Regions from separate parts of the Homo sapiens genome. Here all the other regions are linked to region 2. Evidence: fine-mapped expression QTL. A gene starts in region 2. Each other region holds a variant in brackets. All regions are shown on one strand. Distances are between the middles of the regions.

What was found. PIP is the estimated chance that this variant, and not a neighbour inherited with it, causes the effect. A credible set is the group of variants that fine-mapping cannot tell apart.
Region 1: its variant is the best candidate, but not a certain one, in a credible set for the expression of ADAP1 in whole blood (INTERVAL, PIP 0.77).
Region 3: its variant is the best candidate, but not a certain one, in a credible set for the expression of ADAP1 in whole blood (INTERVAL, PIP 0.65).

Annotation. Positions count from the first base shown.
Region 1 is chr7:926,378-936,385 of GRCh38, forward strand. ADAP1 (ArfGAP with dual PH domains 1) reads right to left here. Exons shown (of 11, transcript NM_006869.4): 2 at 8,998-9,128; 3 at 176-267. Among named protein-coding and RNA genes, the nearest start is that of ADAP1, 23 kb to the right of the region's middle. RefSeq lists enhancers at 1,658-2,244, 2,500-2,589. The variant G/C (reference allele first, on the strand shown) is at 5,530.
Region 2 is chr7:950,448-960,455 of GRCh38, forward strand. ADAP1 (ArfGAP with dual PH domains 1) reads right to left here and starts at 4,233. Exons shown (of 11, transcript NM_006869.4): 1 at 3,949-4,233. The coding sequence starts at 4,030. LOC124901569 (a long non-coding RNA gene) reads left to right here and starts at 4,407. Exons shown (of 2, transcript XR_007060178.1): 1 at 4,407-4,817; 2 at 4,921-5,043. RefSeq lists enhancers at 2,683-3,294, 4,517-5,126 and silencers at 3,420-3,629, 3,920-4,409, 4,429-4,584, 4,440-4,539, 7,781-7,840.
Region 3 is chr7:1,092,250-1,102,257 of GRCh38, forward strand. All of the region lies in intron 2 of CHLSN (cholesin), which reads right to left. GPER1 (G protein-coupled estrogen receptor 1) reads left to right here. Exons shown (of 2, transcript NM_001098201.3): 2 at 1-1,561. The coding sequence ends at 607. Among named protein-coding and RNA genes, the nearest start is that of GPER1, 9.1 kb to the left of the region's middle. RefSeq lists enhancers at 3,244-3,953, 8,260-8,760. The variant A/G (reference allele first, on the strand shown) is at 4,652.

The DNA of each region.
Region 1 (10,008 bases), 24 kb before region 2:
GGTGGTGGCCAGCAGACACAGGCGGCACCTCGGGGTCTGGGGGACGCAGCTGCGGCTGGCTTCTCCCCGACCCTGTGGGCGGCACCCAACTCCCCACCCTGCCGGGTCCTCCCGGGGCCATCTCGGAGCCACCCAGCACTTGACCATGGCCCTGACAAGGCCCCTTTGTACTCACTGGCAGTCGGAGGGCGTGGGCCGGTAGTAGAAGGAGGGTACTTTGGACTCAAACCTGGCTCTCGCGGCGTCGTTCCCGTGGGAGGCCATGAACTGCAAGAGAGGAGGGGCCGGGTCAGAGGCCTGGGGTCCCAGGGGCAGCCTAGGAGGTGCCAGCTGCCCTTGGGGCCGTCACCACAGTGACCCGCAGACCCAAGGCTCTGAGGGCTCCACCAGCACCAGGACGGGAACGCCACCTCCTCCTGCCCCAGGGACACCATTTCTGAGTGATCGACCCTCCCCTGGGACAGGGAAGGAGCCAGCGTCCCTAACGACGGGGTCCCGGCAAAGGGGGCCCAGGGGCCAGGCCCCTTTTGAGGATGGGTCTGAGGTTTGCCCCACCGTTTCAACCCCCAAGTCCACCCACACCGGGTGTCCCGTGGGAGAGAGCTGGCTGCATCCTGTGACCCCCATCTCTGCCCCAGAGAGCGAGGGCTTCCTCGTTCACCCAGCTCCCCAGCTCACATTTAGCAAAGAGCCAACAGGCGCCAGACACGGGGGCCTGGAGATGGGCTGGTGAGCGAGAGACCCAGATGTGGCTAGGACAGAGTCTCTGAGGGGACTCTGCAGGGACACACTGCAGGGACCCAGAACATGTTTACGAAACAGGCTGAGGGAGAAGGAAACGGCGCCGTGAAGGAGGGGAGGTGCTGCAGGAGGCTGTCGTTCCAGGAGGCTCGTGCTCCAGGAGGCTGTCACGCACACTGTGCTCCTGGCAGGCGCAAAGGCCCTGAGGGTGGACGCTGGCAATGACCCTGCCGCCAGCCAGGTATGGTGAGCCTTGAGCAGCAGGAGGGGCCGCCACACCCCACGCCAGCCCCGAGGGCATGGGAGAGGTTCTGCTTGCTATGCTGTAAGCCCCCAAGGCAGCTGCTGTTTGCACCTTCAAGCTCCTGAACACCACTCGCCTGAGGCCGCAGCCAGGCCCAGCCAGACTGAAGTCCCCTGACATCACCCTGCTCCGAGGATCACATGGCAGTAAACAGGGAGGGCCCAGAAGAGCAGCTGGAGAAATCACAAGCAACAAGAGGCTGGCACCAATTTAAAATTCGAAAACCAATGGCTTTTCCATAGAAAACTCAAATACAAGGAGAGATCCTGTCACCAACAGCAACAGGACAAATCACCTGAGTGGCTGGATGAGAAATGTCCCAGGTCTCCAAGGGAAAACTGGCGTGTGCTCCCGAGGACGAGAGCCTCGACCCGAGACACAGGGAGGTAGAAAAATGTCTCCTTATGGGAGTCTACATGTTTTTTATAATAATTGCCAAAAAACAGCAACAGAATTTATTATATTTTTTTACCTAGAAATGGTTCTAAAGTTGAAAAAATTAACAAGGGCCAGCCGGGGACAGGGGCTCACATCTGTAGTCCCAGCACTTTGGGAAGCTGAGGTGGGAGGACCCCTTGAGCCCAGGAGTTCAAGACCAGCCTGGGCAACATAGTGAGACCCTGTCTCTCAAAAAAAAAAAAAAAAAAATTAGCCAGGTGTGATGGCGCACACCTGTAGTCCCAGCTACTAGGGAGGCCGAGGTGGGAAGATGGCCTCAACCTGGGAGTTTGAGGTCGCAGTGGGCTATGGTCGCACCACTGAACTCCAGCCTGGGCGGCAGAACAAGACCATGTCTCCACTGGACACAGCGGCTCACACCTGTAATCCCAGCACTTTGGGAGGCCGAGGCGGGAGGATCCCTTGAGCCCAAGAGGTCAAGGCTATGAGCTATGGTTACACCACTGCACTCCAGCTTGGGAAAAAGAGCAAGACCCTATCTCTGCAAAAAAAGGAAGGTAAAAATAAAAAATAAATAAAAATGGGTAAGGGTTTTTAAAATTACTTTTACATGCATATGTATACTTTTAATTTGTTTTAATGGAGGTGGGGTTCCACTCTGTTGCCCGGGCTGGTCTCAAACTCCTGGGCTCAAGCCATCGTCCCACCTCGGCCTAAAAATGGGGAAGGATTTGATCGGACATTTCTCCAAAGAAGATGCACAAATGGCCACTCGGCCACGCAAAGGCACTCAACACTGTTAGCTGTCAGGGGAACGCAGATGAAAACCTCAATGAGCTACCACCTCTCCCCACTAGGATGGCAAGGTCAAAGTGGCACAGGGGAGTGAGCTGGAGAGAATGTGGAGTGATCAGAGCCCCCGCACGCTGCTGGTGGGAACCTCCGGCTCTGGTGACTAACAGTCTGGCAGTTCCTCAAAACGGTAAACACAGAGTTACCATAGAGTCCAGCGATTCCTCTGCACCGTAAGAGACGCGAAGACGCAGAGACATGCACATGAGTGTTCACAGCACATTCTTCGTGACAGCTGAGAACGGGAACAAGCCCCAGCTCCGTGAACGGAACCACAGATAAACTAAATGTGATCGAGCCACACCATGGAGGGTTCCTCGGCCATAAAGAGGAATGCCGGCCGGGCGCGGGGGCTCACGCCTGTCATCCCAGCACTTCAGGAGGCAGAGGTGGGCAGATCACGAGGTCAGGAGTTCAAGACCAGCCTGGGCAACACGGTGAGACCCCGTCTCTACTGAAAATACAAAAATTAGCCGGGCGTGGTGGTGCACGCCCGTAATCCCAGCTACTCGGGAGGCTGAGGCAGGAGAATCGCTTGAACCCGGGAGGCAGAGGTTGCAGTGAGCAGAGATCGTGCCACAGCACTCCAGCGTGGCTGACAGAGCGAGACTCCATCTCAAAAAAAAAAAAAAAAGAGCAACACAATTCTGACACACGCTACAACCCAGGCGATCCTTGGACACACGGTGCCCATGGAGGAAACCAGACACAAAACACCACGAATCGGCCGCACGTGGTGGCTCACACCTGTGATCCCAGCACTTTGGGAGGCTGAGGTGGGAGGATCGCTTGAGCCTGGGAGTTCGGGACCAGCTTGAGCAACATAGTGACACCCTGTCTCAAAAAAAAAAAAAAAAAAAAACAAGACCACGTATTGCATGATTCCATCTGTTTGAAATGTTCAGAACAAGCAAATCCACAGAGACACAAAGCAGCTCTGTCTACATTCAGTAACGGCTGGGGCGGTGGTGATGGGAGGGGTGGTGAGTACCGGCTGTGTTGGGACGTTAAAATGTCCTGAAGTTAGACAGTGGTGATGGTCGTGCAGCCCTGTGGCTTCACTAAAACTACTGAACTGTACGCTTTACGGGAGTGAATTGTATGTGGATTATACCTCAACAAAGCTGTTATTAAAAAATAACCTTCAGGGTTGGGTGTGGTGGCTGAAGCCTGTAATCCCAGCGCTTGGGAGACTGAGGCGGGAGGATCACTTGAGGCCAGGAGTTCAAGACCAGCCTGGGCAACATAGTGAGACCCCCGTCTCTACAAAAAATACAAAAATTAGCCAGGCGTGGTGGTGCACGTCTGTAGTTCCATCTACTCAGGAGGCTGAGGTGAGAGGATCGTTTGAGCCCAGGAGCTTGAGGCTGCACTGAGCTGTGATTGAGCCACTGCCCTCCAGCCTGGGTGACAGAGCAAGACTGTCTCAAAAAAAAAAAAAAAAAAAAAAAAAACCCTCAGGCAGAGAAGGCCTATTTATGTATGCTATAGACCCTAAAACCACAAAATAAAACGCTGACCACTTTGACTATGTCGAAGTAAAAATTTCCACGGCAAAAACCACCATGAGCAAATTCGAAAGACAACCTAGAAAAAAATGTTTTTGGTATCTCAGATTAATTTCTCTAACATACCAGCAACCCCTAGAAGATGAAAACAGCTAACATTGCAGCAGAAAGGCAGGCAAAGGTGTGAAGAGAGTTCACAGGCAAGAAAACACAGGGCCGGGCGCGGTGGCTCACACCTGTAATCCCAGCACTTTGGGAGGCCAAGGCGGGCGGATCACGAGGTCAGGAGTTTGAGACCAGCCTGGCCAACATAGCAAGACCCCATCACTACAAAATTTTTTTTTTTAATTAGCCAGGGCTGGCGCGGTGGCTCACGTCTGTAATCCCAGAACTTTGGGAGGCCGAGGGGGATGGATCACCTGAGGCCAAGAGTTCAAGGCCAGCCTGGCCAACATGGCAAAACCCCGTCTCTATTAAAAATACAAAAATTAGCTGGGCATGGTGGCACACACCTGTGATCCCAGCTACTCGGGAGGCTGAAGCAGGAGAATCGCTTGAATGTGGGAGGTGGAGGTTGCAGTGAGGTGAGATCACACCACTGTACTCCAGCCTGGGAGACAGTGAGACTGTCTCTAAAAAAAAAAAAGTAGCCAGGCACGGTGGTGTATGCCTGTGGTCCTAGCTACTCCTTGGGAGGCTGAGGCAAGAGGATCACTTGAGCCTGAAAGTTCAAGGCTTTAGTGAGCTATGATAGTGCCACTGCATTCCAGCCTGGGCGACAGAGTCAGACTGTGTCTCAAAAAAAAAAAAAAAGAGAAAGGAAGGAAGGAAGGAGGGTAGGGAGGGACGGAGGGACTGAGGGAGGGAGGGAGGGAAGAAAGGAAGGCAGGAGGGAAGGAAGGACGGAAGGAAGGACGGAGGGACGGAGAGACAGAGGGAGGGACGGAAGAAAGGAAGACAGGAGGGAAGGAAGGAGGGAGGGAGGGAGCGAGGCCCACACAGACCCCTGGCTGCCTGGCCAGGGTGGGGACGGTGCTCAAAGGTGGGAGACAGGGAAGGAGACAGCTCCCTTCTGTGACTGTCCTTGGAAACTGCTGAATGTGTCACTAAATTGTCGAAATACATTAAATAAGGTAGAGACGACCCACGTGTCCATCAGAGGGTGAATGAATAAAGCAAACGTGTTCCATCCACACAAGGCATGTTCTCCGGCCTTGAAAGGAACGAAGCTGTCACACAGGCTGCAGCGTGATGGGCCTCGGGGACCTGGCACCGCGGGAAAGGAGTCGGACGCCGAAGCTCACACGCCGTGCGATCCCGTTTTTAAAAGTCCAGAACCCACAAATCTACACAGAGAGAAAGTGGATTTGCAGCTGCTTTGGGCTGGGCGGGGGTAAGAGCCAAAAGGCACGGACTTCCTTTCTGGGGTGATGAAAATGTCCTAATATTGGCTTCAGCGAAGGTTGCACAACTCTGAATTTACTAAAAAACCTTCAACTGTGCCCTTTACACGGTGAAATGTATGGCTGTGAACGGCATCTCTAGGAAGCAGTTGTTTTAAAAGGTATTATCAAGGAATAGAAAGTAGGGAGAAAAAAAAAAAAAAACATAAAATGTGAAGAAAAGGAAAGAAGAGAAGAATCTTTGGTTCCTGGCCCTTCAACCTCGGTCCGGTCCTCAGCAACGGCCACCTCAGGCCCGTTTCTCCCTTAGGGGTGGGAGCAG[G/C]CTTAGCCCCCGGATGTCCCCGCTGACCACCAGCCCAGGAATGGCCAAGGGGCCTGAGTGCAGGGAGCCAGGGGGGGCCCAGTGCAGCTCCCGCCCCACAGAGTCCCCAGCAAGAAGCCGGGCTGAGACCCAGCCCTGCCTGGGGGCCGGGGTGCAGGTGCTCTCAGGAGACAAGCCCCCAGGCCTGCCTGAGATTCATCTTTGGTTTTTATCGCACCAGTGAACGTGCAGACAACAGAATGGGGATGGAATCTCCTTGTGGCCCCCAGCTCAGTGCTCTCCCAAAGGCCCCATCGCACCAGACCTCTGCGGCAGGAATCAGGGGTTTCTTGGTAATACCCACGGTGGGCCCTCCCCAGCCTTCCTCTCCAGCCTTCCTCTCCGGCCATCACCCCAGGCAGATCAGGACAGCACCAAGTTGGCCCCTGTCCTCTCCCGCTGATTACATTTAGGGTTTTTCCAACAACAGTGAACGCCCCACCCCTGGGCCCTTGCCCCGTTTGCCCTGGAATTATGGGGACAATAGCCACGTCTTCTCCCCGAGCCAAGGAGTCTGTGCCCCTGGAGGCCCTCCAGGGACTCAGGGCTGTTTCCTCCAGGAGTGATGGCAGAGCAACTTGGAGACGGGACACCCGTCCCATCATCTTTCTGACATTGGTCCCCTGTTGTCCGGGGAGGGGGATGGTCCAGGGGCCACCCTGCCCATTTTTTAGGGAAGGAAACGGAGGCTCAGACAAGCCCACAGCCTGGCGAAGGGATGGATGTCACATCCCAGTGTCCCCCCCTGGGTCAGTGAAGGTGGGTCGAAGGGCGAAGGGACGGATATCACATCCCAGTGTCCCCCACCCAGGTCAGTGAAGGTGGGTCGAAGGCGGTGAGCCCAAGGTGGGCCGGGGTCCTGAGGGGATTCGCAGGGACGCCCTCAACTCAGGGTGTGGGGGATCACGGCATTAAGTGCAGAAGCTGATTTGGGGTCGCCCTGGGTGGGTCAGGGACTCTGCTGTCCTTGGGTCTTTTTCTGTCTCCCAGGCTGGAGCACAAAGGTGCAATCACAACTCACTGCAGCCTCGAATTCCTTGGCTCAGCCAGGCATGGTGGCTCACGCCTGTCATCCCAGCACTTCGGGAGGCTGAGGTGGGTGGATCACCTGCGGTCAGGAGTTCAAGACCAGCCTTGCCAACATGGTGAAACCCTTCTCTACTAAAAATACGAAAATTAGCCGGGCGTGGTGGCGTGCACCTGCAATCCCAGCCACTCGGGAGGCTGAGGCAGGAGAATTGCTTGAGCCCGGGAGGTGGAGCTTGCAGTGAGCCGAGATCATGCTACTGCACTCCAGCCTGGGCGACGAAGCCAGACTCCGTCTCAAAAAAAAAAAAGAATTCCTGGGCTCAAACAATCCTCCTGCCTCAGCCTCCTGAGTGGCTGGGATTACAGGCACCACCCCCACACCTGGTCGAGGCACTGGGATCCCAGCTGTGATTTCTAACAAGCCTCCAGGTGTGACCCATGCACCAAGGCTGCCTGTTAGAAGCAAATGAGCTACTCCCAACCAGGGGCAGGGGTCAGTGGTGCTGGAGAGCCGGGGGCCGGGGTCAGTGGTGCTGGAGAGCCGGGGGCCGGGGGCCGGGGTCAGTGGTGCTGGAGAGCCGGGGGCCGGGGTCAGTGGTGGTGCAGAGCCGGGGACCGGGGTCAGTGGTGCTGGAGAGCCGGGGACCGGGGTCAGTGGTGCTGGAGAGCCGGGGGCCGGGGTCAGTGGTGCTGGAGAGCCGGGGGCCGGGGTCAGTGGTGCTGGAGAGCCGGGGGCCGGGGTCAGTGGTGGTGCAGAGCCGGGGACCGGGGTCAGTGGTGCTGGAGAGCCGGGGACCGGGGTCAGTGGTGCTGGAGAGCCGGGGGCCGGGGTCAGTGGTGGTGCAGAGCCGGGGACCGGGGTCAGTGGTGGTGCAGAGCCGGGGACCGGGGTCAGTGGTGCTGGAGAGCCGGGGACCGGGGTCAGTGGTGCTGGAGAGCCGGGGGCCGGGGTCAGTGGTGGTGCAGAGCCGGGGACCGGGGTCAGTGGTGCTGGAGAGCCGGGGGCCGGGGTCAGTGGTGCTGGAGAGCCGGGGGCCGGGGTCAGTGGTGGTGCAGAGCCGGGGACCGGGGTCAGTGGTGCTGGAGAGCCGGGGACTGGGGTCAGTGGTGCTGGAGAGCCGGGAGCCGGGGTCAGTGGTGCTGGAGAGCCGGGGGCCGGGGTCAGTGGTGGTGCAGAGCCGGGGACCGGGGTCAGTGGTGCTGGAGAGCCGGGGGCCGGGGTCAGTGGTGCTGGAGAGCCGGGGGCCGGGGTCAGTGGTGGTGCAGAGCCGGGGACCGGGGTCAGTGGTGCTGGAGAGCCGGGGACTGGGGTCAGTGGTGCTGGAGAGCCGGGAGCCGGGGTCAGTGGTGCTGGAGAACCAGGGGCTGGGATCAGTGGTCCTGGAGAGGGGGTGCCAGAGTCAGTGGTGTTGGAGAGGGGGGGCCCAGGGTCAATGGTGCTGGAGAGGGGAGAGACATGTACAGGAGGCCACCAGCCTCTACGACCCTCCCCATCCCCACAGCAGCCCCCAGACCACCACTCTCACCTCCATGCGGCCCTTCGGTCCCACTCACAGCAGTCAGGAAGATCAATGGCTTCCAGACCCCAAGTCCCACGAGTGGGGCTGGGGTGACCCTCCCACCGGGTCTTCAGGCCCCACGCTCCATCCGACCTGCAGCCCCCAGCCGGGGTCTTGTTCCTTCTCCACCTCCCTCGGGGTCTCCCTACGGGGCCCTTCCTGCCGCCTCCAGCATGCGTGGCCCCTCCCTGCACGCCAGGGCTTCCTGGTTGGCTCACACCCGTCTCCCTCCCCATAGGGGCGTCTCTAGGGCCCCACGAAGCATCTGTGGCTGGTGTCCCTGCCTGGCCATGCCAAGTGCTCCGTGAAGCCTCATCAGATGCATGGGTGAGAGGTGGGCAGTGGCTGTGTCACCTCAGAGGCCGCCCAGGGGACAGGTAATGGTGCCCTACACGGCAGCGGGCCGGGGTGCACGTGGACTGCCGTGTAAATGCGACCCTGACTCTGGGTCGTGCCGCGCGGCCTGGGACGCTGCATTCTGTTTCCTTAGAGACAGGGTCTCTTTTACCCTGAGCCCAGTGCTCCAGGTGTGGGGATTTGAGGGGAGCACTCCGGAGCTCCCAGGGCACGGGAATCGGCGACCCGCCTTCGCTCCCTGGCCCACCACACACACCTGGAGCTGCTCACAGAGAGGTTGGACCCGGCACGGGGTGGGTGGAGCAGCCACACAGGCGGAGCCGCTGGAGAGGGGGCGGGGTCCTCGGGTCCAGCCAGCCAGGCCCCCAGAGTAGCCCAAGGCTCCAGGGGCCACAGCCAGGCCGCCCGGCATCTCTGGCTCCAGAGGCCCGGGCTGAGGCCACCCGGGGACTGCGCGGGTCCCCCCGCCCCTCCCCCTCCGTACCTCCACTTGGGCCTCCTCCCAGGCGTCCAGGCGGACGGACTTCACCTTGCTGACCTGGGGGATATTCCGGTGGATTCCCGAGCAGCTCAGGCAGATGAAGACGCCCAGAGTGTAGGAGGCCCAGTCGGGATCTGCAAGGGAAAGCCGGACGTTCACGGAGGCTCAGCCCAGGGACCCCGGAGGGAGGGTGGACGGAGCCTCGAGTCAGGAGCCCCCGGCCATGCAGTGGGGGGGGCTTCAGCGGAGACCCCCGGGTACACCAGGCTCCGTGCGCCCCACAGGCACCTAACCCCAGCTCCCCCCCCGCCCTCTGCCCGGTGCAGACGGGGCTCTCCCCAGACACCCCACGGCATCTGAGGAAGCCGATCTGCATGCACCTGCTCTGCCCCGCGGGTGCCGGGAACCTCCAGCAGAGGCCGGCCCCACAGGAGCCCATGCCCCGGGCTGGAGGGCACCCGGCACTCGTGAGGATGGGTCCACCTGCTTTCCTCGTGTCCGCTGCCCTGGGAGAAGTCTGTGGGCCCGAATCCTCCTGGGTGATGGGGCCAAGATTGGGAAATTCAGATAGGATCTGAGTGCAGGGGGTGCCTCACACCCAACGCGCTGCACACCCCCGAAGGACGGATGGTAGCCGCGGATGACGACGCACCCTGCGTGGGGTGACAGCGCCCGGCGGCCACTAACTTTGCAGGTGTGACAGCGGCGCTGTGGCTTCACCCTGCATGTGGCCTGTCTAGGGATTCCACGTCTCGATGTCTGGTTTGCCTTAAAAGGTCCAACAAAGCTGGACACAGTGGCTCAGGCCCGTAATCCCAGCGCTTTGGGAGGCTGAGGGAGCAGAATTTTTTTTGAGACATAGTCTGTTGCCCAGGCTGGAGTATGATGGCACGATCTCGGCTCGCTGCAACCTCTGCCTCCCGGGTTCAAGCGATTCTCCTGCCTTAGCCTCCCGAGTAGCGAGGCACGCACCACCATGCCCGGCTAACTTTTGTATTTTTAGTGGAGATGGGG
Region 2 (10,008 bases):
TGCACTCCAGCCTGGGCGACAGAATGAGACTCTGCCTCAAAAAAAAAAAAAAAAAAAAATGAATACCGCATGGTTTCACTTCTACAAGGTCCCTGGAGTCATAAGATTCATAGAGACAGAAAGTTGAGGCCAGGCACGGTGGCTCATGCCTGTAATCCCAGCCATTTGGGAGGCCAAGTTGGGAGGATGACCTGAGGTCAGGAGTTCAAGACCAGCCTGGCCAACATGGCGAAACCCTGTCTCTACCAAAAATACAAAAATTAGCCGGGCGTGGTGGCAGGCGCCTGTAATCCCAGCTACTCAGGGGACTGAGGCAGGAGAATCGTTTGAACCCAGGAGGCAGAGGTTGCAGTGAGCTGAAATGGCGCCACTGCATTCCAGCCTTGGGAACAGAGCAAGACTCCGTCTCAAAAAAAAAAAAAAAAAAAAAACAAGAAAAGAACAGAAAGTAGAAGGGTGGGTGCCCCGGACTGGGGAGAGGAAATCTGGAGCCCTTGTTGAATGGGGACAGAGCTTCAGTTTGGGAAGATGAGGAGGTTCTGGAGATGATGGTGGTGGCGGTGGCACGGTGAGTGAACGTGCTCAAGGCCCTGGAACTGTGCACTCGAAACGATGAGAAGGTAAATTATTATTTTTAAAAAATCCGGCCAGGCGCGGTGGCTCATGCCTGGAATCCCAGCACTTTGGGAGGCCGAGGCGGGTGGATCACGAGGTCAGGAGACGGAGACCATCCTGGCTAACATGGTGAAACCCCATCTCTACTAAAAATACAAAAATTAGCCGGGCGTGGTGGCGGGTGCCTGTAGTCCCAGCTACTCGGGAGGCTGAGGCAGGAGAATGGTGTGAACCTGGGAGGGGGAGCTTGCAGTGAGCCGAGATCGCACCACTGCAGTCCAGCCTGGGCGACAGAGCGAGACTCCGTCTCAAAAAAAAAAAAAAATATCCAACCTAGTTGGGCCGCTGCCCTGGGGAGTGAAGGGAGTCTGCCCAGCCCCCGCCCACACTCAGCAGCCTTCTTCCCACCCTCACCCATGCCGGCCAAATTCCTGAAACTGGGAGTTGGAGGTTGCAGTGAGCAAAGATCGTGCCACTGCACTGTAGCCTGGGTGACATCGAGAGACTGTCTTAAAAAAAAAAATTAGCTGGGCATGGTGGCATGGACCTGTAGTCCCAGCTACTCAGGAGGCTGAGGTGGGAGGATTGCTTGAGCCCTGGAGGCAGAGGCTGCAGTGAGTTGAGATTGTGCCACTGCACTCCAGCCTGGGTGACAGAGCGAGACCTTAAAATAAAAAAGAACAAAAGAGCTCAGACACCCCAGTCCTTCCGGGGCATCAGATGGCCTGAGACTCAAAGAGGACAATATGTGTGTTTTTCTTTTTTTTGAGACAGGGTCTCACTCTGGCCTAGGCTGGAGTGTGATCACGACTCACTGCAGCTTCCAACTCCTGGCCTCAAGCGATCCTCCGGCCTCGGCCTCCCAAAGCACTGGGATGACAGGCGTGAGCCACCGCGCCCGGTCCCTGTCCTCTGTTGCGATTTGGCAGGCAGCTCCAAGGATGTACGGAGGCACCCCTCCCTCCCCCAAACCCCCTCCCAGGATGGAGACCCCCACCCAGGTCTTGCAGGACAGTGGGTCCAGGCACGCCCCAACTCGCCCACCTGCCAGGCCTGTGATGAGAGGCTCTCTGGGTGGCCGCCGGGCGAGGCCCCCTGTTCAAGGTCAGGGGAACCCACTATTGGGACAGGTCATGGGGAGAGTTTGGAAGGAGCTTCTGTGGGGGCCGCAGAGACCCCAAGACTGCTTCCCTCACACGGCCAGTGGGTGGGGCCTGCTCAAGTCCACCCCAGCAGCCCCAGGCCTGGCGTTCAGAGGTGGTCTGGGACTGTCTGATGTCCTGCTGTCCAGGTCTGCACCAGCCGTGAGCCAGTGCACAGGACAGTGTTCTGAGGACAGCAGAACGTGCCGGCCACCCCAGCCCCCATCAACACTGGAGTGGCTCCTTGTCACCCAGCTGGGCCACAGCAGGTACAGGAGGCCCCAGAGCAGCTGGCATCAGCAAAGAAGCATAGAGCCCTCGAGGATGTGCCATGGGGTCATGGGGGGCTAGGCAGCCCCCTGCCTCCTGACACCGCCTGTTCCACCCTGTGGCCACAGCCCTGGGGAGCGGGGACAAGCAGAGCGGCCGGGTGTGGCTCATGTCCCCTAAGACAGCTCCCTTTGCAAGGCATCAGTCTCCCTGGCTGTGAAATGAGAGTGACCCCTCACAGCATCCCCCCTCCATGGCGCTACCCGACAGAGGAGACAAGTCACTGAGGTCATGGACAGATTCTGAAAAGGCAGAGGTGCGGCCCTCTACCCGGCAGCGTGGGGCATAGGGACGGCAGAGAACAGCTCTGGGGTGGGCCAGGCTGGAAGCTTAGCAGGTGGGCCGGGCACACCTGCACCCACTGGGAGGGGAGGACCACTGAAGGACCCAGCAGGCCAAGGAAGTCCCCTCTTCCTCCTGCCAGGCTGGGAGGCCCAGAGGGTGGCTGGAGAGGGGCCCTGAGTCCAGAGAAGCTGCTCCCAGGCTGTGTGGCCAGGGAGCAGAGGTTCAGAGGCAAGCCCAGCTCCCCTCCCCGTGGGCCACAGCAACCCCAGGCCAGGCCCTTTCCCACTGGCTTTCCTGGGGAGCGTTCCTGAACAGGAGGAAATAAAGGTCTGTGGGGAGAGAGTCTGGGGTGAGCCAGCCCAGGGGGCCACCCCCACCGCACCATTGCACGGGCCCTGTGGCCGTCCTGTCTCAGGAGACCATGGAAAGGCCGTGGGTCCTGCCTGTCTTTCCAGAAAAGCCTGTCGCTATCTCCCCTCTGGGACACCCCAGCTCCTGATGTGGCCTTTCCAGCCAAGCTGCAGCTGGACAGCAGCCACCACGACCTGGGGCTGGCAGAGACCCCTCCATCCCAGAGGGAATCAGGGACACCCCTTTTTCCGGGGTGTCCAGAGGCTGCATATTGAACCAGGGCCTTGGAGGCAAATGCAAGGTCTTCCCCCGCTCCCTCCCTGGGGGCCTCAGTCACCGCCGGTGAGTTTAGGTTTGTTCCGAGGGGCTTAGACTATTGGCCCCCAGATTCCTGGTGTGCCTGGGGTGGCGGGACTGCTCCGGCGGGGCCCTCTCTCCACAGCGCAGCCGGCCTGGGGCTGACAGCTCCCGAGCAGGGCAGGGCTGGTCTGGGCACTGGGCCCCGTTCACAGCCAATGACAGGACCAGTGGCCTGGAAGGGAGGGACTCCGCGCCTTTGGACTCCAGTGCCTTGAAATCCCACAGACCTGGGAACCGAGTCAGGGATGCCCGGCCGGGAGAACGAACGGGCGGGCGGCGGGTGGACCAGGACCTGCGTCCGGCCCCACCTCTCCCAGGCCTCACCTGTCCTGGCGCCCGCCCCGGAGCAGCCAGGTGCAGGGAGCCGGGGGCAGGGGCGCCGCTCACACCCAGGGACCCCCGGTGCGGGAAGGGCGTGAGGCATGACGTCACCGCGAGGTGGCCCCGGAGCCGGCGGACCCCACAGCCCAGCAGAGACCTCCGGCTGGCGGCCCGTTCCCTCCCTGCAGCCAGCCCCGATTTCCTCTTTCTGTGCGGAGCCCGAGCTTTCGCAACGCGGCGGGCGGTCCGCGGTGACCGTCAGACACGCAGCCCGGCGGGGGAGGGGAGGCGGCGGCAGGGGGGTTTCCGGGGGTCCTGGGGGGGGCCCCCCCGCTGCGCCCGGCCCGGGAAGACGTCCGGGTCCCCGCAGGTGCAGCCGGGCCCGGGCCCCATCCGAGCGCCGATCCGGCCCGGTGTTCAGCGCCGCCACCCCCGCGGCGTCCGCGCTCCCCCGCCCGGTCCCCGGGGCCCACCCAGGACCCGCCCGGCACCCCGCGCCCACCCCGGACCCACCCGGCCCCGCGCCCACCCGGCCCACACCTACCCGGGGCGCCGCAGTCCGCGCAGCGCGCGTTCCCCGGCCGCTGCAGCAGCTCCAGGACCGCCCTGCGCCGCTCCTTGGCCATGGCCGCGATGCGCCCGCGATGCCGATGCCGGGGCCGGGGCCGGGAGCGTCAGCCCGGCTCGCTAGGGCCCCGCGCAGGCCGCCCGCCGCCGCCGCCCCTGCGCCATCCCGGGCGGCCTCAGCCCGCGCGCCGGTTCCGCATTCCCGCCGCCCTCTGGGCTCCGCCGCCGCCGCTCGTGTCTCCGCCGCGGTCGCTGAGCGAGTGCCGGCGCGGGGCCCGGGGCGCACGCTGCGCTCTGGCCGGCAAGGCCCGCGGGCGGCCCCCAGCGGTGCAGGCGAGCGTGTGGCCTCCTCCCTCGGCCGCTCCGGCGCCCCCAGCCCGCGCGCCCCGGGGACCCGCTGGGAAATCGCCCGCCGCCCGCCCCCCATCCGCGCGCAGCGTCCCACCTGCCTGGGCGCGAGGCCGCCCCAAAACCTGGCCGGCCTGGGTGGGACCCTCGTGCCGCCGCGCGCGGTGGGACGGAGCCTGCACACCTACTGTGGGGGGCGCAGAGGGCACCTGCCGAGCCCCCCAAGACCATGGGCATGGGGGTGCTCGTGGAAGGCAGGTGTGCGTGTCCTGTGCTACGGACCAGGACCAGGGCGCTCACACCATCCCTGCCTGGGAGGGACGGCCAGCAGGTGACAAACGCCAGCGTCCCAGGGCACTGAGGCCACACAGGGCCCAGACGGAGCCTCCCCCTGAGACCCACCCAGCCGCCCACCACCCACAGATGGGACCCTCTGGGCACCCCTCCCACTCAGGCAGGCTGAGGGGCCCCGCCGGGACTTCACATGGGGGCTGACAGGTAACAAAAAACCTGGTTTTGATGTCACCTCTTCCCAGACTCGCGTGCCCTTCCTCTGCACACCCCAGCATCTTTTCAAATTCTTTCCATTTTCTTCTTGCAGGGTTAATGCAGTACACCCGGCTGAAAACAAACTGGAACATACCAGACTGAAAAAGGAAAGCCTCTCCCCACTGCCTTCCAGGCAACCACTGTTAACAAATTCCTCAGCACCTTCCAGAACGAACGTCTGAGGCCTGTAGCCTTTCATTTATTTATTCATTTATCGAGACAGGGTTTTGGCTAACGGCTGTAATCCCAGCACTTTGGGAGACCCTGGCGGGTGGATCACTTGAGCTCAGGAGTTTGAGACCAGCCTGGGCAACATGGTGAAACCCCGTCTCTACTAAATACAAAGAAATTAGCCAGGCGTGGTGGCGCATGCCTGCAATCCCAGCTACTTGGGAGGCTGAGGCAGGAGAATCGCATGAACCTGGCAGGCAGAGGTTGCAGCGAGCCGAGATTGCGCCATTGCACTCCAGCCTGGGCAACAAGAGTGAAACTCCGTTTCAAAAAAAAAAAAAAAAAAAAAAAACCAAACAAACAAACTCAAAAAAAGTTCAACTGAACCATGACTTGTTCACCCAGTCACTGGCATAGGGGCATTTAGAGCGTTTTGAATGCATCAGAATCATGGTCTACACAACCTCATCTTTGCAAGAGTTTTGTGTGGATTTGCTCTCAAAGTGGCATCGCTGGGGCAATGGTATGGGATGTGGAATGGCCTCCACTGAGGCTGCACTGACCAGAGTGCCACCAAAGGCACCTGTCCCCCTGCTCCAGCTGACGTGGAATCATGGAGCTGCTTAAGCTCTGTCTACCTGAAGCAGAACGCGGCAGCCCGTTTTGGTCTGTGTCTCTGGGATCTGTGCCCTGTGGCATCACGTGCTCTTTCCCTGTAACCGTTCACATGGGTCTTTCTCCTCCCTCAGACGGGAGGCTTTGGGGTGGGGACAGGTGGCATTTTCATCTCTGGGTCCCTGTGCCAGGCTCGGAATCCACCACACAGCATGAGCTTGGAGAATGTCGCCTAATAAAGACAGACGAACATTAATAGCAGCAGCTCAGCACTAGGTATTAGGAGAAATAGCCTGACTTGTATTTTCTATTTTCTTTTCTTTTCTTTTCTTTTTTTCCTTTTTTTTTTTTTTTTTTTGAGACAGGGTTTTGGTCTATCGCCCAGGCTGGAGTGCAGTGGCACGATCTTAGCTCACTGCAACCTCTGCTTCCTGGGGTCAGGTGATTCTCCTGCCTCAGCCTCCTGAGTAGCTGGGACCACAAATGGGTGCCACCATGCCCAGGTATATTTTTATTTTTTGGTAGAGACAGGGTTTCACCATGTTGCCCAGGCTGGTCTCGAACACCTGACTTCACGTGATCTGCCTGCCTTAGCCTCTGAAAGTGCTGGGATTACAGGCCTGAGCCACCACGCCTGGCTTGACGTGTATTTTCTTTTTTCTTTTTTTTTTTTTTGAGACAGAGTCTTGCTCTGTCACCCAGGCTGGAGTGCAGTGGTGCGATCTCGGCTCACTGCAAGCTCCGCCTCCCGGGTTCACACCATTCTCCTGCCTCAGCCTCCCCAGCAGCTGGGACACAGGTGCATGCCACCACGCCCGGCTAATTTTTTTGTATTTTTAGTAGAGACGGGGTTTCACCGTGTTAGCCAGGATGCTCTCGATCTCCTGACCTCGTGATCCGCCTGCCTAGGCCTCCCAAAGTGCTGGTATTATGGGCGTGAGCCACCGCGACCGGCCGACATGTATTTTCTTATTAAAGCCCCATTTTCAGCTGGGAAGACTGAGGCACGGGGAGGTTCGATCCCTTGCTGGAGGCCACACACCTCAGGACTGGAATATACATAAAACAATATAACAAAGCAACACACCCTAACATAGCCGTTACCCAAGGTCCCCAAAGACGGGGAGGCCATCATACAAGGCATAGAAAAGGCAGCAGGGAGGCCTCAGGGGAGCCGGTGCCCAACAGGCCAGAGCTTCTGGCACAAGCCAAGGCCATCTACTGCCTGCTGTTCCGGGGCCTCCTCCGTGGGGCAGCTCCAGCAGGCGAGTGTCTTGCCTTCTCTGTCCTTCCATCCCGCTAAGGGAACTGTGGCATTGCTCGGGGGGCAGGAGGGCGTGAGGATGAGACAGAGGTGGGTGAACCCCTCAGATCTAAGAGATGTCGGGGCTGAGGGGGATTCTTCCAAAGAGGAGGCTGCTCGGCCGAGATCCGCAAGTACCTGCCTGGACCCGAGAGCACAGCCGTCCTGAAATCCTGCTGCCCTGACTGGCTGTGGTCAGGGCTGGGCGGGGCAGTAGGGGAGCCCAGGACTCAGGAAGAATCCGGAAGGTAACAGCATAGCTCAGGGTGGGCCAGACCCAGACCAGTGCTGGTCAAAGGCTGTTCCGGCCAGCAGCGGCTGGCGAGGGGCCTGGACAGGCGGCGTGCCTGCTCCTGCTCATGCCCAGTGGCCTACAAGCTCTGCTGAGCCTCCTGCCCCTTGTCACTGACCCGCACGGCTGCACCAGGGACCCTGACACTCATTCCTCAAGCATCTCCCTAGTCCAGAGCCAGAGGCAGCCGCCTCCTGTGACCACTCGGCCACACAGCAGACCCTGGGCAGGGGGCTCCCGAGAGCAGGGCGAGCTCCTCCAGCGTCGCCTGAGCACGGGGCCTGCGCGTGGTAGGCCAGCAGGCGACTTTGATTGGAAGCTGGCTCCTCCCAGGCCTGCAGCTGCGGGGTGAGCCTCTCAGCACAGGCAGAAGGGGGCTCTCCCCAGGGAAGGGGCAAATGGACTGAGGCCGGGCTGGGCCCTGCTCTGCGACCATCTTGCCCAACAGTCAGCCGAGCTTGCTCAACCAGGAGCTGCCTCAGGGGAGGGGAGGTTGTGGAGGTTCACTTCCCTCTCCACCCCGCACAGGGGCCGGGGCTAATTCAGTCAAATTATCTGCGCTTGGACAGCGTCTGGCACGATGGCCGTGAGCTCAGTAGGCCGCCCTGCAGGCCAAGCAGGGGTCTTCAACATCCAGGCTCAGCGCAGGGGTGGGCAGCTCCTGGCTCTACCTGCCTCAGCTGTGGGGATGGGGGTCGTGATGTTGGGCCCCCATGTGGCCGGCCCCCTCCAGGGAAGCCCACTGGCTGTGGCCTCCACCCTGTCCTCTGCGACGTGCCTTTGGCCCTGCGCAGACCCTCCTGGGCCTTCTGACTGCTGTGAGGGCCCTGCCACCCCTCGGGCACCTGGAGTAGGAGTTCAGCAGCATACGGATCCTAAAGAGCTCTGCTCAGGAGGGGCTTAAAGGAGACACGGGGATTCCCCAGAAATAGCCACTGCGCCCCGAAATGCAGGGGAGGGGGAACCACCCAGGACCAGAGGTGGTCTCAGCACAATTTTCTGGGAGTGGGGCTAGACCCGGAAACCCCTTTGGAAGCAGGGAGTCCTCAGGGGCCTCCCCAAGATGTCATGCCATGGAGGTGGGTGCACAGGTTGGCTTACTGGGTTTTGGGGCATTTGAACATATCTTTTGCTTGGTTTTCCAAACAGAGATGGGGTCTGGAGTGGAGAAGGGGGTCGTGGAGAGCCATCCCCATAACCGACGGGCTGGTGGCAGGTATGGAGCTGGGCACTGCGCCCGGGCAGGGGTCCTGCCATCCCCCATCCTTTCCTCCCCCGCTGGGCAGCTGGCGTTGGCCTGACCACTCCAGTCACGGCCCAGGTCTCCCCAGGTGCCATCTCTTGAGGCCTGGGACCAGCAGGGTCCTCGGGGGCCGGAATCACGCACTTGGCATGGGGAGGAGGCCCAGACCCGACGCGGGACCCCGGGAGGTGCTCTCCCCCCACCAGCCCTGGCCCCTTTCCGCAGCGACCATCGGGCAGTAGTGTTTACAAAGTTCACACCCAAATTGGTGCAGCCTCAAGAAACAGTTACTTATAAAGAACCCATACAACTCAGTAATAAAAAGGCAAGTGAACCAATTAAAAAAAGGGCAAAGAATCTGAACACATGCGTCCCCAAGGAAGACACACAGCCGCCGACAGGCACCGGAAATATTCAGCACCATTAGTCGTCAGGGAAATGCCAATCACACCAGGATGCAGTGAAGACCTGGCGGGGGGCCGGTGGAGGGAGGCTAGGATTTACAGACAGACAGTGCCGGTGAGGATGGGGGAAGCTGGCCCCTCCCACAGCGCTGGTGGGTGTAAGACGGTGCAGCCGCCCTGGAAAACGGGCTGGCATGGAGCTACCGTGGGACCCTGGAAACCCACTCCCCGGTATGCGCCCGAGGACGGCAGAAAACACGTCCACACGCACCTGGACACGAGTGTTCTCAGCAGCATCTTTCCTTTTCTCTTTTTTTTTTTTTTCTTTTGAGATAGAGTCTCGCTCTGTCACCCAGGCTGGAGTGCAGTGGCATGATCTCGGCTCACTGCAACCTCCGCTCCCGGGTTCCAGCAATTCTCCTGCCTCAGCCTCCTGAGTAGCTGGGATCACAGGTGTGAGCCACCACGCCTGGCTGATTTGTGTATTTTTAACAGAGACGAGGGTTTCACCATGTTGATCAGGCTGGTCTCAAACTCCTGACTTCGTGATCCGCCTGCCTCGGCCTCCCCAAATGCTGGGATTACAGGCATGAGCGCCCAGCCTTATTATTTATTTTTTCAAGATAGGGTCTTGCTCTGTCACCCAGGCTGGAGTACAGTGGTGCAATCATAGCTCAGTGAAGCCTCAACTTCTTAGGCTCAAGCCAATTCTCCCTCCTGAGCCTCCCGAGTAGCTGGGAATACAGGTGTGCGCCACCATGCCCAGCTAAGTTTTGTGGGGTTTTTTGTATCTTGCTACGTTGCCCAGGCAGATCTTGAGCTCCTGGCTTCAGGTGATCCACCTGCCTCAGCCTCTCAAAGTGCTGGGATTACAGGCGTGAGCCGTCATGCCCAGCCAGCGTTACTCAGAACAGTCCCAAATGCAGACAGCCCACACGTCCACCAGCTGATGGGTGGATAAGCCAAGAGTGGTCTGTGCCCACCACAGAGTGCGACTCAGCCGTGAACACACCACGACACAGGCGAAGCTTGAACACACTGTGCGAAGTGACAGGAGCCAGGCACAGAGGAGCAGATGGCGGGTGCTGTGGGAACTGACAGGAGCCAGGCAC
Region 3 (10,008 bases), 140 kb after region 2:
CCGGCTGAGCTGTGGCCTCATCTGGATGGCATCCGTGTCAGCCACGCTGGTGCCCTTCACCGCCGTGCACCTGCAGCACACCGACGAGGCCTGCTTCTGTTTCGCGGATGTCCGGGAGGTGCAGTGGCTCGAGGTCACGCTGGGCTTCATCGTGCCCTTCGCCATCATCGGCCTGTGCTACTCCCTCATTGTCCGGGTGCTGGTCAGGGCGCACCGGCACCGTGGGCTGCGGCCCCGGCGGCAGAAGGCGCTCCGCATGATCCTCGCGGTGGTGCTGGTCTTCTTCGTCTGCTGGCTGCCGGAGAACGTCTTCATCAGCGTGCACCTCCTGCAGCGGACGCAGCCTGGGGCCGCTCCCTGCAAGCAGTCTTTCCGCCATGCCCACCCCCTCACGGGCCACATTGTCAACCTCGCCGCCTTCTCCAACAGCTGCCTAAACCCCCTCATCTACAGCTTTCTCGGGGAGACCTTCAGGGACAAGCTGAGGCTGTACATTGAGCAGAAAACAAATTTGCCGGCCCTGAACCGCTTCTGTCACGCTGCCCTGAAGGCCGTCATTCCAGACAGCACCGAGCAGTCGGATGTGAGGTTCAGCAGTGCCGTGTAGACAGCCTTGGCCGCATAGGCCCAGCCAGGGTGTGACTCGGGAGCTGCACACACCTGGGTGGACACAAGGCACGGCCACGTCATGTCTCTAAACTGCGGTCAGATGTGGCTTCTGGCTCCTCGGGGCCTCGCGAGGGTCACGCTTGCCTGGTCACCCTGGGGCTGCTTAGGAAACCTCACGACTGGTCACCTTGCACTCCTCACACAGAATTGCTACAATCCCAAAGCGCTCGCCCCGCAGGGTCCAAAGGCCAGCGGTGACCAGCCTGTCACCCAGCTCCTCCCCGCCAACCCTGCCTGCCGCTGCACCTGCCTGCCGCTGCAGGAAACATTTCTGACACCGTCGACCAGGAAAGCCACACGGAGAGGCCACTGTGGGTGAAGCGCCTCAGTTACACAGGAACCCTAAAGCAAATCTGCCACCGTGGGGGAACTGACGCTGGAGATGCAAGGTGCTGGTGGGTCTGAGCTGGACGTCGCGGTGTGTCCTCTGTGCCCACGGTCTGAGCTAGCTAGCGCACCGCCGAGTTAAAGAGGAGAAGGAAAACATGCTGCTCTGGTGCACGCCTGAGCGTCCTCCATCTTCCAGGATGGCAGCAATGGCGCTGTGCGGCCTCACCAGGCCCACGAGGAGCAGCAGCGCTCGGCCCGGAGCAGCAGGAAGGCCCCTCTGTGGAGCGCCCGCCGTCTGCTCCGGGGTGGTTCAGTCACTGCTTGTTGACATCAACATGGCAATTGCACTCATGTGGACTGGGACCGTGCGAGCTGCCGTGTGGGTTAGTCGGGTGCCAGGACAATGAAATACTCCAGCACCTGTGGCTGACGAATTTGTTTCTACAGAAATAACAGCTGGGGACAACTGCGGTGATGATGTAAAAACCTTCCCATAAAATGTAAGAAAAGCTGATGAGGCTGGTGACGTTCAGCCTTTGTCAATAAACCTGTCATGTGCGGATCCTTCCGGAGGCTCTGTCTTGGGGGTCTGCCAAGTGGGGTGGGACGTGGGGTGGGCATGGGGCACTCGGGAGAATCCCTCCCCCCTCACAGAAAACACAGCCCTCCCCTGCCACCCTGAAAACTCTCACAAGGCCAGCCTCTGAGTCCGGCCAGCCGGACCTAACCTGGCATTTCCAGGCTGTCCAAAATGCCGTGGGGGCACTTCTGTGTCATGCTTGGGTGCCATGACAAGCTTCCCATGAATGTAGGAGGCAGGGCTCAGCCTTGTCCAGCAGCCTGTGCGACCTAAGCTGCCTTTCTAGAAGGCTCTCGGCCGCGTGCGAGGCCCAAGAGCTCTGCGGCACCCAAGCGCTCCTGGAGCAGCCGGCCGGGAAGGTTCCTGCTCCTTCTCCCATCACCGGGGCTGGATCCTGGCGCTGCTCCCCTCCTTTCCCGCCTCACCCACCTGGCAGCAGCTGTCCCTGATGTTAACAAGGTGCACCTGAACCAGTGCCTGCTTCTCCGTCTTCACAGAAACCTGCGCAGGGCGTCGGGATGTGTGGGTGAAGGGAACTAGCCACCTGTACTACCCCCTCACTTTTCCTGTGTTTGCGGTTCTGGTCTGTTTAAAAGCTATGATACTGTTTTTTATTTGTGATAACATAAAGTTTGATATGCAAACATATTGAAAGGAAAAGGCCAATTAAAGAAAACATCTGCAAAAGAGCAGGGGGTGAACGGGTGCGGCACAATGAAGACTGAACGCAGCCATGTTGAGTCCAGGAAACTCTCTCCTCCTGTCTGTGGGACATAACACAACCACAGTGAGTCCAGGAAACTCTCTCCTCCCGTCCATGGGACATAACATAACCACACATGAGCCCAGGAAACTCTCTCTCCTCCTGTCTGTGGGACATAACACAACCACAGTGAGCCCAGTAAAACCTCTCTCCTCCCGTCTGTGGGACATGAAGCTGTGTGTCGGTGGGTGTGGGAAGCCTGGGTCTCTCAGGCAGGTGGGGCCTGTATTCTCCATGACCCCAGCACCGTGGTGCTGGGCTCCTCAGGAACAGAGCGCTGCCCAGACCGTGGCCTGCAGGAGCGGCCTCTGTGCCCACTTCTATCAGGATTGCTTTCCTCATAAATGGCTCACCGGGAAGCCTGGGAACAGGGCGGCTCCCACACACTAACAGGTCTCGTGGAAGTGGAGATTGCTGTGGGGTGGCCAAGCCAGAAGCCAGGCTCACGTGTGGCACAGTCCTGCAGAACACCGTGCGTGGCTTGAGCCACGACTCAGGCCCGGCGCACCCCTCCCTCTGCCCTTCCAGAGCCTGCCCTGCAAGTCACCCCAGCTAAAAGGACATGGCCATCACACTGACATCCGTGCTCTGGAGCTCCTTCCAGGCCCCAGGGACGAGACTTGCCCTCCTCCCCAGGGATGTACTCGCTCAATGCCCAGGACAGCCAGGCAGCAGCCCCCCAAACCCCCACCCCCCACACCTGGGCGCTGTCTTTACAACAATACCCAGGACAGTCACGCAGCAGCCCCCAAACCCCCCTCCCCGACACCCGGGCACTCTCTTTACAAGATGCATGCTTCAATGAAGCTCCCCTTTTGACCTCAGTGTTGCTGATGGGGAAAAACCATCCAAGTCCCAGAAAGCAGGCGGGGTGGGTGCTCTACCACCAGGCACCCAACTACCTGTCAGGCATTCCCCACACACAGTCCCGTTCACATAGCTTCAACAGGGGCAAGGGCAGACGCTTTAAAATACGCAGACGAGAGACCCAGCATTTCTGACTTCCAGTTCTGACGAGCTGACGTGGGGAGACCCACACGGAACGTGGTCTGGTCCCCACCCCTCACAGCAGCCCCGTGGGGTAAGCGCTGTCCCCACCACACCAAGGAGGCACTAGAAGGGTCAGTCACTGCTCGAAGCCTTAAATGGTGGGTGACACAGCCAGGAATTCAGCCACGCTCTCCTGGCTCAAAGCCCACAAGCTCTGTAGCACTCGGCAACCCCTGGCGTCTAACTGGCAAAAGCACGCCATGCAGAAATCATACAGGGCTGGGGGCCATGGGCATCGAGGGGTCACCCAAGGTCACCAGCCCAACCTCCTCTAAAGCCTGCTGTGCGGGAAGTGCAGGGACGGCAGCAGCGGCAGCGGGGAGGGCTCCCTTAAGGTGATCTGGGTGGGAACTGCGTCTGAACAGAGCCCCAGGCATCAATCAGGGACGGGACTCAACTCATTCCTCCACGTCAACCCACCACAGGGAACAGTGCTGACTGTGGCGTCCTTCCCTCCCTGCCACAGACGCGGCTTCCATCCTGCCCGCACCAGACACCGCTGTTGAGTGCGTGGAAGCGTCACGCCGCCCCACTACGCCGCTCCTCTCCGCCAGGTCTCTTCTGGGGACTTGCCCAAGGCTCTGGGCAGACAGAGCTGACACGCCGCCATCTAGCCGCCGGAAGCAGACTCTTGACCTGTGAAGCTGGCGGCGGCACTGCTCTGAGGCCAGTCACACGAGCGACAGGCACCCAGCAGCCAAGCCACCGGGCTGCGGTAAGGGCAGGTGCAACACTGAGGTCCCCACGCAGTAGAGCCAGCCTTGGACCCTGGGCCCTGGAGTCCCTGACCCTGAGATCCCAGAGCTGGGAGCTGTAGGACAGAGACCAGCAGGCCGGGCAGGGACTCCGTGGGTGCCGCCGGCGCAGCCACACACGCCCTTCTCAAGCGCTTGCCTGGGAGCCAGGGCAAATGTAATTGTTTTTGGCAGGCCCACGGTGAGATAAAATCAAGGCGTCTTAACTGCTCTGCTGTCTCCTGGTAACCCAACTCTCCTACATGAGTGCTTTTTAAACCCAGAAAGAGCTCAAAAGTACATAGCTGCAAGCATGGGAAAAACCCCCGTGTTAGCACTGAACGTGACCTCCTCGTTCTTTGTGCTTAACAATTAACTCTTGACCTCACGAGAGTGACACGGCTTACCCGCCCTTCCCAGGCCCCGCACCTCCCACTCAGTGAGAAGCGGCAGCGGTGGGCTCACTAATGCTCACGCGCCCACTCACCTGCAGTCTTGGGGGGCAGGGTGGGGGAGAGAACTACA[A/G]AGAAACCTTCTTAGGAGGGTGTTTCTGTGGCGGGGTGGGAAGCCATTCCAAAGCCGTCCTAGACACCCCGTGAACTGGGCACATGAGGCAATGTGAGGAGGCTCCTGAAGCCGGGGCTCTCCCAGCAGAGGCGGGAGACAGGGCAGGCGAGGGGAGCCCATGGGAACGGGTCAGGGCTGAGGACAAGGCTTAACCCAGACATTGAAAGTAAGAAGCAGCACACAGACTACGCGAGTACGTTTGAACACTCACAGACACACGCTCACATGTTCCAAGCTCTATCTCTGCAGCCCACCTGCACAGGGCCTGGCCCCGAACACTGCCACCCTCCAGAAGGGCCCAGGACTCCGGGAGAAATGGCTGATTTGGGCCGGGGCAGGGAGAGACAAGATGAGCCTGGGACAGGTGATTCTGGTTGAGACAAGAAAGGCTCCAAGAGCACGTCGGGTGACACCCAAAGGACACGGTGTCCTCGCCAAAGCTGGGACAACGTGAGCAGTAAGATGAGTAAGAAGAGACAATCGTGATAGACCATGAAAAGCAGGAGTCTGCAAGTCTACTCCAACAACAAACAGACCTAATATAATTTAAATAAAATGAAAGAATGCATGAATGGGAAGAGTCTCGTTTCTAATAAAGTGCTGGCTGGTAAAGTAGTTGGAAAAGCATCACTCTGCACCTTTCAGAGGGAGACGGGGGCAGGTAAGAGTCACAAATGGAGGGCGAATCTCAGGGGGCAGTGAGGTGCAGGGGACTGCAGAGCCTACCTGTCCCCCACGGATGGCTCATTAGTGCTCGGGGAAAGGTCACCACACAGTGGAGACGGGACAGCCCCTCGCTGGGTGATCACATGGGCAGCACCAACAAGGAGGCCGGTCCAGATGCTACACCCTGAGAAGGGTGCGTCTCGTGCTGTCATCTAGGAACGCACAGCCTGAGTCTCATCAGGAGGGAATGTGAGATAAACAGGAAGGGAGGACGGGGAACCAGGATGCATCAAAAATGTCCATGTGACAAAAGACAAAGGCAGAGCAATCATCCCAAACTCAGAAGGAGGAAAGAGATGTAACAATTCGACACAACAGGGATCCTAGATGGGTGCTCTACCAGAAGGAAAAGAGCGTCGTGAAGGATTTTATGGGGTCAGTCGACAAGAATGGAATACCCCGGGAGATAAAAGTGCTGCCTCAAAGTCCATTTCCCGAGATGGGCAACAATGCCTCTTAGGAAGCCCACACTGGAGTGTGCAGAGGGAAAAGACGGGACTGTGCGAGTCACCCCCAAGAGGCTCCGTGGCGGCAGGATGCACACAGCAAGTGGGGTGGGTGCACAGCAAATGCACAGGACAAACGTTATCCACTCCACGCCCATGGATCAACCTCAAAGAACCGGAAACATGCATCCAAGCAAGCATTTGTTCGTGAATGTCCACAGCAGCACTGTCCACAAGAATCAACACGTGGAAACAACCCAGATGTCCATAAGCCAATAGACGGAGAAACGAAATCAATCTATCCAACAGTGGAATATTACTCTGCCATGAAAAGGAACAAAGCGTGGACCACACCACAGCATGGTGGACCTGGAAATGCCACAGTCAGGAAGATAAAGTCACAGTCAGGGAGATAAAGCAGACACGAGTGGAGACGCCACGCTCGGTGAGATAAAGCAGACACGAGTGGAGCTGCCACGCTCAGTGAGATAAAGCAGACACGAGTGGAGCTGCCACGCTCAGTGAGATAAAGCAGACACGAGTGGAGCTGCCACGCTCGGTGAGATAAAGCAGACACGAGTGGAGCTGCCACGCTTGGTGAGATAAAGCAGACACGAGCACAATGTCCACTGCGTGCGTCCGCCAATGTGAAACGTGCAGGGCAGACAGGTCCACAGGACAGAAGGCTGGGAAGCGGCTGCCGGGGCTGGGGTGAGCGGGGGACGGGGAGCCACTGCTGACAGGCAATGGAGTTTCCCTGGGGGTGAAGAAAACGTTCTAAAATTAGATTGTGGCGATGGCTGCACAAGTCTGTGACTAAAAATCACCGAGGTACACACTTCAGAAGAGTGGATTTCTGCTATGTAAATTACATCTCAGTAAAGCTGCCATTGAGACCACAGTACCCATTCAAGCGCCGGGCTGTGTTCCTGCAGCTGGCCTTCCTTTTCAGAGCCTCACTGTCACGTTCTTGCAGCGGCCTCCCCTTCCGGAGCCTCGCTGTCGCGTTCCTGCAGCCGGCCTCCCCTTCCGGAGCCTCGCTGTCGCGTTCCTGCAGCCGGCCTCCCCTTCCGGAGCCTCGCTGTCGCGTTCCTGCAGCCGGCCTCCCCTTCCGGAGCCTCGCTGTCGCGTTCCTGCAGCGGCCTCCCCTTCCGGAGCCTCGCTGGTCTCTGCAGACCAATTCTGTCCCTCTGAAGCACAGGCCACCATCGGACAGTGCTGGCTAACAGCCGCCCTGTGCTGGTGGGCCACGGGGACGCCAGCCCAACACTCCACACACACTTCGTTAGCAGCCACAAAACATTTCCTAAGAGCGGAAGGGTTTCCGCCATCTGGAATCCTAGACGCCATCCAGCATTTATTGTAAAGCTTCTAATTAAAGCTTTCTCTTCTCGCTCACCGCCTGGTAAGTCGAGCTTTACTTTTCTTCTCCACGGTGGGAAACTCATTACCTGGAGTGTCTTTGGATGTACTTTTAAATTAAAAATGGAGGAAAAGAGCGTTAGTCAAAATTAGAGCTGAACTGACTGAGTCTCTCTGGACTCCCTCAGAAAGTGGAGATGCCAGCTCCGCCTCCTGCAGAGCTTGGTTGCCAGGGCTGGGTCAGGCTGCCTGGGCGTTGCCGTCTGACCTGTGCACAGATGTGGCCAGGTGAGGACACAAGCTGTTGTCTCGTTTGCTGTGTGCTGTTCGCAGACACGTCTCACTAGGCGGTTTGCTCAGAACTCCAGAGGACAAGGGTACGTCATTCAGGCCACGGTGCAGCAGACGCACCTGACGGCGGGGACTCAACCACGGCAAACCCTGAGTAATACCGTGCGGCAGATGCACCTGAGGGTGGGTTCGGAGTTCCAATCTGAGCTATGGAACCTGGGTATGGACAACTGGATAATCCACTTCTCATTTAAGAGGAACATCTGAGCCCCCGTCCCCGTTCTGTGCACCGCAAGCCAAATGGGAGGGAGAGCCTGTGTTCTGGGTTACATGAAGGTTGCCAGGTGGAGGGTGCTGAGTGGAAATGCTATACATGCCACTTGCCTTTTTCAAGCAGGTGCGTTCTCCTGTCCAGCCGGCCACCACTGCACCCTGCCCCGTATGAGCCCTCAGTGGAGCCCCATGTCTCGTTTGCTGGCACTAGGCCTCTTCTCAGGCCTCCTGAAGCTGCTGCCAGCCCACAGGAGCCGACAGAGGCTGGGTGCCGTGTTCAGGCCACTCTCGCTCTTCAGGTCCGGCTGGTGAGCAATTCTCTGGGAGAGAGTGGACACCAGAGGCAGGCAAAGCCACACCTGTGGGTGCAGGCCACACGCAGGCTGCACAGACCCGGGACAGGTCTGAGCTCTGAGGCGTGCGGCCCATCTCCGCGGCAGGAGCTTCTGTCTGAGCCTGGGGAGGAAAAGCCTCCACCTCACCAAGCGGCGTCAGCTGGGGAGCCTGGGCCGTGCGCCCTCAAGAAGCCATGGCTGGAGGCCTTTGCTCCAGACATGACCAGCCCCTGCCTTCCTGGCTCTCTGGCAGGTGGTGAGTCAGCTGACCCAGCTCTAGCGGAAACAAAGTGGGGGCTGGGGGAGGGGCCGTCTGTGAAATGTCCCCAGCCGGAGCCCCTCACTGTCCCCTCTGCCTCCCTGCCTCCCGGCCTCCACAGGGGCTTCTTGTGGTTAAAAAAAAAAACAAAACAAAACCCTTTCTGAGCACTTTACCCATCTCGCCCACAGGCAGAGACGACACCCCGAAAGGACAGCTGCGTCTACATCCATCAGCAAGTCTCCCGGGAACGGCTGAGGGGCAGAGATGGGAGAGGCCACAGACGCAGGCACAGAGCCCCGTGCACCCCTGCTCCTGGCCTAGGCGGGGTCTGCAAAGGCCCTTCCACCGCAGGCACAGCCCGTCAGGGAGGCTCACGCTCCACTCAGAAGGACACAGCCCGTTTCAGGGAACACAGGCCCAGGCGGCCCTGCCACAGGCTCCCAGTGTCATGGTGGCCCCTGAGGTGACACGTGCGCCACGAGGGCAGGCGTGTACGTGCGCACACTCCCGCAGACTCTGCTCTCGCACACACCCAGGCTGCGTTGCTGGGAAACGTCAGCTGCTGCGGTTGGTCTGTCTGATTTCTGCCATTGTCTGGTGGGTGGAGGATGGAGCCTGGGAACAAGGGTTAAAAAGCCAAAGGCACGCAGAACAAACGCCCTGGACGCTGGTGTGCTGCTGAGCCCAGGTACTGGGGTGGACTCCACCTGAAACCTACTGCCAGAAGTCAGCTGCTGGGAGTCCCCAGAGGGGCCCAGCTACTCTCAGAGCAGGCGCGTGCGGCGTCGGACCAGGGGCTGGCTCTGTAGAATGTGAGCATCTGCCAACTGAGCCTCTGAACATGACACAGTGAGCGGCTCCTTACACAGAGCCCCTTCCTTCCTGCTCCCGCCCCTTCCCCGGCTATTCCTGAACAACTTCTAGAGCTCTGCACCTTCAGCCTCCTGTCTGATTCTCGCCGGGATCAGCCTCCGCGCAGCCGCCCAGGTTCCTTGCAGGGTGGACCGTCCCGTGTCCCAGCACCGGGCCCTGCCCACGGCGTGCCTCCTGAGAGGGCCCACTCAGCACGGCCACGGCAGCCTGAACTCCCAGCCTTGGTATCCACGCAGCCCGCAGCTCTCTGCAATGAGGGGCCGGCCGCAGGCCCAGGGAGATGTCAGCTGCCCCAGGCAATCACAAGCAAGGAGGTGCGCGTCGCGGACACAGCACGAAGCCCTGCTCGGCCTCCAGAAAACGAGGCTCGCTCCTGAGTCTTGGCTCGCTGGGCCACCGTCACCCTGCTCTCTGGTTCAAGAGGCAGCGGCCAGGCCAGCCGAGCCAGGAACAAGCTGCAGTGCCTTGGCAGCGTGTGAAATGCAGAAGGTCTTGCCCATAGAAGTCATCACAGCAGAGCGCTCTCCCCACAGGGGCTGGGCAGCATGTCCGCTGACCACAGACCTGGCTTTGGGGCACGTGCACCACCCACGTTAACCATCCAGAGCTACAGGCAACAGCCCAGTGCCAAGTGCAGCCAGCCAGAAAAGAAAAACACACAAAAAAACGGCAAAACACAAACTCCGTCCAAAGTCCACCCACGAGCAAAGCCAACCGCATTATTCAGAGCTGCGTGCCCAGCACACG